Regions from separate parts of the Homo sapiens genome. Here region 1 is linked to region 2. Evidence: fine-mapped expression QTL. A gene starts in region 2. The other region holds a variant in brackets. All regions are shown on one strand. Distances are between the middles of the regions. Region 1 has its middle 23 kb from the start of PLRG1. Region 2 holds the start of FGG (fibrinogen gamma chain).

Evidence for each region. PIP is the estimated chance that this variant, and not a neighbour inherited with it, causes the effect.
Region 1: its variant is the best candidate, but not a certain one, in a credible set for the expression of FGG in lung (GTEx, PIP 0.89).

The regions. Positions count from the first base shown.
Region 1 is chr4:154,524,667-154,530,059 of GRCh38, reverse strand. It overlaps the pseudogene WDR77P1. Among named protein-coding and RNA genes, the nearest start is that of PLRG1, 23 kb to the left of the region's middle. The variant T/C (reference allele first, on the strand shown) is at 2,454.
Region 2 is chr4:154,609,807-154,615,199 of GRCh38, reverse strand. FGG (fibrinogen gamma chain) reads left to right here and starts at 2,544. Exons shown (of 9, transcript NM_021870.3): 1 at 2,544-2,668; 2 at 2,765-2,809; 3 at 2,999-3,182; 4 at 3,302-3,395; 5 at 5,003-5,133. The coding sequence starts at 2,591. RefSeq lists an enhancer at 1,330-2,502.

The sequences.
Region 1 (5,393 bases), 85 kb after region 2:
TTTTGTTGAATGAGCAACGGTCCATGTATAGGCAACAACGCGAGGAAGGCATTCATAGGAAAGTCACAAGAAGAAACTTGTAGCTTTTCTGCCAGGGGCATGATGATGAGCTCACAGGAATGGCAAGGGATGGTCTGTAGGTGTTGGCTGGGCTTCTTGATGTTTCCAAGGGGTGGAGCTGACTCTTGGCTGACTCTTTCTTTTTGAAGAGGTTATAAACTCTCTGCTCTGGTCTCCTTGGAGCTTCTCTTTTTGAATCTTAAAACCCTAGTTTCTACTTCAAAAATAATATTAAAATAGTTCCTTTCTCCTTAAATTCCTGCTTTAACAATCTTAATTCTCTCCCAGGCAACGTGATTGCCTCCAGCTGATGAAGGGAAGAGTCAGGAAGTGGAGGAGAGAAAAACACAAGGATTAATATGCAGGATGTTATCTCACTGCAAGTACCTCCACCATGGTGTCTTCTAACACTATGGTAAAATGACTGTTAATATGAAAAAAAATTTTTGTTTAAGCAAATCAAAATCAGTGTAGTTTCTGTTGATTAAAAAAGTACAAAAGAAAAATATCCATCAAACTTCCTAAGAAGTATTGTCCTGTACTGAGCATGCCAAATGTAAGAGAAAATTCTTAAAAGGAGAACCCATAAATACGGATGTTGCCAAAAAGCATGACATTATCATTTAGTAGATTGCTTTATGAATGAAAACAGCTATTTGAATAAAAAGTCTTGGCTGTCTACCACCCTCTTGGAAGCTGTTTGCAACGACAATTGCAATTAATAATAATTATATTATTAATTAATAATAATTGCTTCCAATACCTTTGGTGGCATTAGAAGGTACTGTTTTCCTTAGGAATTAATTGTAGGATTTTTCATTTCATTCTCACAAGGTGTGAAGGTGGAGACATATTACAGTAAATCATTTGCATTGGAGTGTGGCCAAGAGAGGGAATGTTGCAAGAGCAAAATACGATGAATGTCCATGAGAGAGTGGGAGGCCATAGTAGCTACAGGGAAGTAGGATGGAGCCAAAATAATCTCAAGTGCTTGTATGACTGGGACTATTAGTGAGGAATAAGAAACAAGACTCCCTGAGCGAGCCTGTGACTAAATGAAAGTACCAGAGTCCACTTTCACTGGGGTCAGAATGTTAGCTCTTCCTTGTCCTCTGCTGGTGTTTGAAAAATTTGATATCCATTATTAACATAGGTTCAAAATACTGAGAGAAATAGCTAAGGGATGATCCCCAGATACAATGAAAGTAACTCTGTTTTCTTTATTTCTGGGTCCTAGCTATGGCAGGTTATCTCCTATTTTAATAAGATATTAGAATTTTGCATGATTCATTCACTCATTCAACAAACACTTATTGACAGGTCACCCTTCCCTCCTTCCAGCACAGAGGCAGGTTTTTCTCTGTTTTTATTTCTCTTAGTTATTTCAGTTGGGAAACCTGTGTAACTATATGCAAAACGTATATATATGCACACATTTATTTAAAATTATTGCTGAATTTTGAAAAATCATTTATGAAAAATTATGACATAACATATATTATTATTCTAGTATACAGGAATTGTAATGTGGGCCAAACAAGTCATTCTTGATTTTCAGATGTGCCATAGTTTTAGTTTTACATTTTATTACTTTGTAACATTACAGATTTTGCCAGTTCATTTAATCAAACTTTATTAAATTGTGTAACTGTAAATGGAACTTTCTAAGTATAAGTCTATTCTAGCTAGCAAAATGTATTTTATCAAGTATAGTAACAGAAGAGTGATATACATAGGTTAGAAGTCCGTATCTATGAAAAAAATTCTTCTAAGACTTGACATAATTGTAACCTTATATTGGACTGTAAACTTAAACTTGGATGTATATATTGTCATTTACATAGTGTCATATATTCACACTAACTTGCTTGTCTGTGAACGATTAGAATGCTGAACTTTCACATTTAGACTGTTTTAAAATTGTCCACTACTGAGACTTAAATCAATTATTGATAATAAAACTGCATTATTGATTAATATGTATAAAGGACAGCTAATGTGTTAGTATTACCCTATCATTTAACTTGAACTATGGATGAAAAATGTAAGATATTCCTTTAAGTACTTTCTGTTCAACATCTTTTAAGAGAGACTTGGATTTGAGGGGGTAATAAAACATTTATTCTAGTGTAATGTCACAGATTTGCAGATAGTTCATTTTAAATCTCTGAGGTCTACACTCATTAACACTGACTTATAAAAAAGAAAGAGTTCCATTTACAAGATATTTGGTAAATGAAGAAAAGCATAAATATCACCAGCCACACTGTTCCCTACCCGCCCCCAAGCCCCAGCCACAGGGTGGAAGACATTCATGGACAGAAGCATGCTTTTCAGGGTAAATGTGACTTAGGATTCTTCCTGGATGGTGCATACGCCTCATAGTTCCCCAT[T/C]CTTCCATCCTGGAGAGAGCTGGAGGAGTGGAATGGGGTGTCTGGGAATTCTCCTAACACAATGGGGCAATGTCTTCACAGCATCCCTCCCCATTTGTTGTCATGACTTGCACCTGCAGGGCGCTCACTCCACCAGCTACCGCCCACCTGTGCAGAATCCTCATTTCACTTCCCTTCATCAAAGACCCAGCTGGTGGATGGAGCGCTAACTTCTCCTGGCTTAATTTTCTTTTTCTTAAATAAGGAGACAAATTCAATAAACTGGAACATTCTTCTGGTTTGATTGTGTGGACCAATCAAAATGTGGTCTTTGATAGCTTCTGAAATGAAACATACACACTATTTTATTAAAGGCAGAAAAACAAATATAGATGAAAATATCCAAAGTCTGCTACCAACTTTACGTTTTAAAAAATCCTCAGCCCGATTTTATATAACCATAAGCAGAAATTTCAGAAATATTCTCCTCAGAGGACAAAGTGAAAAAAGTTTTTTAATGCTTCTAACCCTCTAATGAGACTTATTTTCCTTAAACGGTTGGTCTGCCCTTATGTCCTGTCCTGTAACCTGTTTTGTTTGTTTGTTGTTTTTTTACCCTCATCTTTTCTGTGATGATAAATCTGTTCTTTTTTGTCAATGTCCTTGATCTTCCCAGAGCCTGGCAGGTTCCACCCCACCCTCTCCACAGACCTCCCTCCCCTTGCCTTCAGTTCCCTCATCCTCTTCCTCCTCAAGCTGCTCTATTACCAGTAACACATTTTAAATGTGTGGTTGGCTTTTTATAGACAATGGTTAGATTTAATATGTATGATTTATGTTTGAAAAGCAAGCAAGTTGTGGAAAGACTTGGGAATCGAGATTTGTTCTCTTTCTTGGATTGAAATCAATTTTGAAGGGTAGCACATAATGCCACATGCAGCCTATGGAACTTTATATCACACTAGACTTGGTTTAGTACACATGGATCAGGATGATGCTTTCAAAGGTGACATGCTCAAGATTTTGTTCCCCTTGGGAAATTCAGGACAGTGTTTCATCTTTTTTTTCAATAATTGAGGCCTCTTGTCTGTAATATCTTATACTTTCCAAAGAATTTTCATGTATTTTTTTTTAAATTGTGGTGAAATACACATAGAATTTATCATAACCATTTTTAATTATACACATCAGTAGTGCTGTGTACATTTGCATTGTTGTGCAATCAATCCTGAGAATGCTTTTCATCTGCAAAACTGAAACTCTGCACCAATTAAACAATAAACCCCCGTTCCCCTTTCCTCGCAGCTCCAGGAAACCACCTGTTTACTTTCTGTCTTTATGAATTTGATTACTCTAGGTTCCTCATATGAGTGGAATTGCATTTATCTTTTTACAGCTAGCCTATTTCACTCAGCATGGTGTCCTCAAGGTTCATCCATGTTGTAGCCCATGTCAGAATTTCCTTTCCTTTTAAGGCTGAATAATATTCCATTTTATGTATATACCACCTTTTTATTCATCCACTCATGTGTCAATGGACACTCGGGGAGCTGCCACCTTTTGACCGTTGTGAATAATGCTGCTCTAAACATGGGTATACAAATATCTCTTTGAGATCTTACTTTCATTTTTTTGGATGTGTATCCAGAAATTGAATTGCCGGATCACATGGTAATTGTATTTTTCATTTTTTGAGGAATTGTCATATTGTTTTCCATAATGACTGCACCATTTTTGATTCCCATCAACAGTGCACAAGGGTTCCAATTTTTCCACATCCTCACCAACACTTACTTTGTTTTGTTGTTTTTCAAAAAAGGCAGGCTTACAAGATGCCTAAACTGTTTATTTCACCAGCCAGTATTTCTGATTTTCTTCCTGAGGCTGAATTTTAAAACTTTAAAAGTCTACACATACTGCATTTAGACTTTCTATATGCAGAGAAAGGGGCTGAGAGCAGAAGAGGTCAGGCCCCAGGCTGGTTTTGGGTGGGAAAAGTGGCAAAGATTCCTCTGTAACAGTCTGTGTCAGTTTTCTAACAATTGAAATGCCTTTAAGCTCTCCAACATCCACAAAATTTCCTCTAGGGCATCTATGACAGAAAAACACTCCTCTTTCATATACACAACACCAGCAGGGAGCAGAGGGAAGGGAGTTGGCAGAAAGGAGTGGACATTACACAGGCACAGGCCACATTTTTAATTCATCCAGAAAAAGGACTTCTGATTCAGTTTAATGGAAATGAGTTGTATAAAACTATAACATGTCCTGCCTCTTCCTCAAAACGAGCTGGGCTGAATTTTTGTGATTGGAAGCATTTCCCATAACGGTGAATTAAGCGCTATAAAAAATAAAATCAGTCCCATCTCTATGAGTAGCATAAGAGCTGCTTCCAGGAACCTAGGGATGCCCACATTCCATACCCCACCCAGATATGGTCAATTCCTCAGACAGCTACATGGGAAGAATAAAACCCTTTTGTCAACTTTTTTGGGGAGTGAGGGAGAGATGGTGTTCAGGGGAGATGTGGGATAGATTTTTTTTAAATCCCTCCCCCACCGTCCCACCTCCCTACCAAAACCTACACACACACACTCAAGACGAACCTGCATGCCCATTTTTAAGAAAGCTTTTCTTTCCTGTGACTACAGGATCCCAGCATCCAGCCTCCTTCAGGCTGCGAGACGATGCCAATTAATGGCACAGATCTAATGTTTCAACATACTACAGAAGGCTCCTGTGTTATCTCACAAGCTGAGGGAACAGGGGCAAAGAAGTGGACTCTCATGGGGGACTTGCTGTTTGTCTTAAGTCCAATCTACTCAGCAACGCTTTCAGGTCCAGGGGCTGGGAGAGGTTCTGTGGGCACTTGTGGCAGACGACCTGATGGTCCCAGCCCATTGTGGTAAGCAGAAAGTGATTGAGGGGGGATCAAGCAGCATCTCTCGCAAGGTCACAGTG
Region 2 (5,393 bases):
GGATAAGATAGAATTTCTAATGTCCTCAATTTAAATGTTTATCAACTTTGTGAATATTATATATCTTAACACAACCAATGAAACTTTATGACATTAAGGAGCTCAGAACCCAACCTGTGGCTGCATGAATTGTTACCCTAAATTCAACAAACTAATATTTTATGGTCTTCAGCAAAAAGAACCACAAAGACATGCTCTGTCTAAACACACTTTGCTTGAACATTCTTACAGATAGGAAGTATACCTTCTCACAAGGCATGCAATCCATTTATATTATCATTTGATCTTTGATTGGTAAAATCAATTTGGATAGAATTTCCTAAACTAAACGACCAGGTGCTTTCTTCTCTGGGGAATCTTACAGAAGGAGACTGCAGTTAGTTGCAACAGATTTTTTATTAAAGAGAATTTCTGTAGCTAGAACAACAAAGCTTGTTCCCTGTGAACCAAATCTACCAATAATAGCTCTATTAAAAGAGTTTCCTATTTACATAGATTTTATACCAAATATATTTGGTAATTCATAAACCTTACAAACATTTACTTAACACTTACCATGAATTGGGTAATGTGCTCAACACATTATCCCACTAAATCTTAGTAATAGCCCTATTAAGTAAATACCATATCATAAGTATTATCTCTCTTTTACTGACATGGATAATGGAACTCAAGGAGATTGAGTAACTTGTACTGAATCACACAGCCAGTAAATTGTAAAGATGGGACTCAAACCTAGGGAGATGGACTCCAGAGCCTTAACAACTATTTATTTATACATTCTCCAATTGAGCTACACACTTCTTGAAGGCAAAGGCAATGCCTGAGTCACCTTTCATGTTCAAATCATATTAAAAAGTTAGCAAGATGTAATTATCAGTGTACTATGTAAATCTTTGTGAATGATCAATAATTACATATTTTCATTATATATATTTTAGTAGATAATATTTATATACATTCAACATTCTAAATATAGAAAGTTTACAGAGAAAAATAAAGCCTTTTTTTCCAATCCTGTCCTCCACCTCTGCATCCCATTCTTCTTCACAGAGGCAACTGATTCAAGTCATTACATAGTTATTGAGTGTTAACTACAACTATGTTAAGTACAGCTATATATGTTAGATGCCGTAGCCACAGAAATCAGTTTACAATCTAATGCAGTGGATACAGCATGTATACATATAATATAAGGTTGCTACAAATGCTATCTGAGGTAGAGCTGTTTGAAAGAATACTAATACTTAAATGTTTAATTCAACTGACTTGATTGACAACTGATTAGCTGAGTGGAAAAGATGGATGAGAAAGATTGTGAGACTTAATTGGCTGGTGGTATGGTGATATGATTGACAATAACTGCTAAGTCAGAGAGGGATATATTAAGGAGGAGAAGAAAAGCAACAAATCTGGTTTTGATGTGTTCACTTTGTTATAATTATTGATTATTTACTGAATATGAATATTTATCTTTGTTTTTGAGTCAATAAATATACCTTTGTAAAGACAGAATTAAAGTATTAGTATTTCTTTCAAACTGGAGGCATTTCTCCCACTAACATATTTCATCAAAACTTATAATAAGCTTGGTTCCAGAGGAAGAAATGAGGGATAACCAAAAATAGAGACATTAATAATAGTGTAACGCCCAGTGATAAATCTCAATAGGCAGTGATGACAGACATGTTTTCCCAAACACAAGGATGCTGTAAGGGCCAAACAGAAATGATGGCCCCTCCCCAGCACCTCATTTTGCCCCTTCCTTCAGCTATGCCTCTACTCTCCTTAGATACAAGGGAGGTGGATTTTTCTCTTCTCTGAGATAGCTTGATGGAACCACAGGAACAATGAAGTGGGCTCCTGGCTCTTTTCTCTGTGGCAGATGGGGTGCCATGCCCACCTTCAGACAAAGGGAAGATTGAGCTCAAAAGCTCCCTGAGAAGTGAGAGCCTATGAACATGGTTGACACAGAGGGACAGGAATGTATTTCCAGGGTCATTCATTCCTGGGAATAGTGAACTGGGACATGGGGGAAGTCAGTCTCCTCCTGCCACAGCCACAGATTAAAAATAATAATGTTAACTGATCCCTAGGCTAAAATAATAGTGTTAACTGATCCCTAAGCTAAGAAAGTTCTTTTGGTAATTCAGGTGATGGCAGCAGGACCCATCTTAAGGATAGACTAGGTTTGCTTAGTTCGAGGTCATATCTGTTTGCTCTCAGCCATGTACTGGAAGAAGTTGCATCACACAGCCTCCAGGACTGCCCTCCTCCTCACAGCAATGGATAATGCTTCACTAGCCTTTGCAGATAATTTTGGATCAGAGAAAAAACCTTGAGCTGGGCCAAAAAGGAGGAGCTTCAACCTGTGTGCAAAATCTGGGAACCTGACAGTATAGGTTGGGGGCCAGGATGAGGAAAAAGGAACGGGAAAGACCTGCCCACCCTTCTGGTAAGGAGGCCCCGTGATCAGCTCCAGCCATTTGCAGTCCTGGCTATCCCAGGAGCTTACATAAAGGGACAATTGGAGCCTGAGAGGTGACAGTGCTGACACTACAAGGCTCGGAGCTCCGGGCACTCAGACATCATGAGTTGGTCCTTGCACCCCCGGAATTTAATTCTCTACTTCTATGCTCTTTTATTTCTCTCTTCAACATGTGTAGCAGTAAGTGTGCTCTTCACAAAACGTTGTTTAAAATGGAAAGCTGGAAAATAAAACAGATAATAAACTAGTGAAATTTCTGTATTTTTTCTCTTTTAGTATGTTGCTACCAGAGACAACTGCTGCATCTTAGATGAAAGATTCGTAAGTAGTTTTTATGTTTCTCCCTTTGTGTGTGAACTGGAGAGGGGCAGAGGAATAGAAATAATTCCCTCATAAATATCATCTGGCACTTGTAACTTTTTAAAAACATAGTCTAGGTTTTACCTATTTTTCTTAATAGATTTTAAGAGTAGCATCTGTCTACATTTTTAATCACTGTTATATTTTCAGGGTAGTTATTGTCCAACTACCTGTGGCATTGCAGATTTCCTGTCTACTTATCAAACCAAAGTAGACAAGGATCTACAGTCTTTGGAAGACATCTTACATCAAGTTGAAAACAAAACATCAGAAGTCAAACAGCTGATAAAAGCAATCCAACTCACTTATAATCCTGATGAATCATCAAAACCAAGTGAGAAAATAAAGACTACTGACCAAAAAATAATAATAATAATCTGTGAAGTTCTTTTGCTGTTGTTTTAGTTGTTCTATTTGCTTAAGGATTTTTATGTCTCTGATCCTATATTACAGATATGATAGACGCTGCTACTTTGAAGTCCAGGAAAATGTTAGAAGAAATTATGAAATATGAAGCATCGATTTTAACACATGACTCAAGTATTCGGTAAGGATTTTTGTTTTAATTTGCTCTGCAAGACTGATTTAGTTTTTATTTAATATTCTATACTTGAGTGAAAGTAATTTTTAATGTGTTTTCCCCATTTATAATATCCCAGTGACATTATGCCTGATTATGTTGAGCATAGTAGAGATAGAAGTTTTTAGTGCAATATAAATTATACTGGGTTATAATTGCTTATTAATAATCACATTGAAGAAAGATGTTCTAGATGTCTTCAAATGCTAGTTTGACCATATTTATCAAAAATTTTTTCCCCATCCCCCATTTATCTTACAACATAAAATCAATCTCATAGGAATTTGGGTGTTGAAAATAAAATCCTCTTTATAAAAATGCTGACAAATTGGTGGTTAAAAAAATTAGCAAGCAGAGGCATAGTAAGGATTTTGGCTCCTAAAGTAAATTATATTGAATGTGGAGCAGGAAGAAACATGTCTTGAGAGACTAAGTGTGGCAAATATTGCAAAGCTCATATTGATCATTGCAGAATGAACCTGCATAGTCTCTTCCCTTCATTTGGAAGTGAATGTCTCTGTTAAAGCTTCTCAGGGACTCATAAACTTTCTGAACATAAGGTCTCAGATACAGTTTTAATATTTTTCCCCAATTTTTTTTTCTGAATTTTTCTCAAAGCAGCTTGAGAAATTGAGATAAATAGTAGCTAGGGAGAAGTGGCCCAGGAAAGATTTCTCCTCTTTTTGCTATCAGAGGGCCCTTGTTATTATTGTTATTATTATTACTTGCATTATTATTGTCCATCATTGAAGTTGAAGGAGGTTATTGTACAGAAATTGCCTAAGACAAGGTAGAGGGAAAACGTGGACAAATAGTTTGTCTACCCTTTTTTACTTCAAAGAAAGAACGGTTTATGCATTGTAGACAGTTTTCTATCATTTTTGGATATTTGCAAGCCACCCTGTAAGTAACTACAAAAGGAGGGTTTTTACTTCCCCCAGTCCATTCCCAAAGCTATGTAACCAGAAGCATTAAAGAAGAAAGGGGAAGTATCTGTTGTTTTATTTTACATACAATAACGTTCCAGATCATGTCCCTGTGTAAGTTATATTTTAGATTGAAGCTTATATGTATAGCCTCAGTAGATCCACAAGTGAAAGGTATACTCCTTCAGCACATGTGAATTACTGAACTGAGCTTTTCCTGCTTCTAAAGCATCAGGGGGTGTTCCTATTAACCAGTCCCGCCACTCTTGCAGGTTGCTATCTGCTGTCCCTTATGCATAAAGTAAAAAGCAAAATGTCAATGACATTTGCTTATTGACAAGGACTTTGTTATTTGTGTTGGGAGTTGAGACAATATGCCCCATTCTAAGTAAAAAGATTCAGGTCCACATTGTATTCCTGTTTTAATTGATTTTTTGATTTGTTTTTCTTTTTCAAAAAGTTTATAATTTTAATTCATGTTAATTTAGTAATATAATTTTACATTTTCCTCAAGAATGGAATAATTTATCAGAAAGCACTTCTTAAGAAAATACTTAGCAGTTTCCAAAGAAAATATAAAATTACTCTTCTGAAAGGAATACTTATTTTTGTCTTCTTATTTTTGTTATCTTATGTTTCTGTTTGTAGATATTTGCAGGAAATATATAATTCAAATAATCAAAAGATTGTTAACCTGAAAGAGAAGGTAGCCCAGCTTGAAGCACAGTGCCAGGAACCTTGCAAAGACACGGTGCAAATCCATGATATCACTGGGAAAGGTAACTGATGAAGGTTATATTGGGATTAGGTTCATCAAAGTAAGTAATGTAAAGGAGAAAGTATGTACTGGAAAGTATAGGAATAGTTTAGAAAGTGGCTACCCATTAAGTCTAAGAATTTCAGTTGTCTAGACCTTTCTTGAATAGCTAAAAAAAACAGTTTAAAAGGAATGCTGATGTGAAAAGTAAGAAAATTATTCTTGGAAAATGAATAGTTTACTACATGTTAAAAGCTATTTTTCAAGGCTGGCACAGTCTTA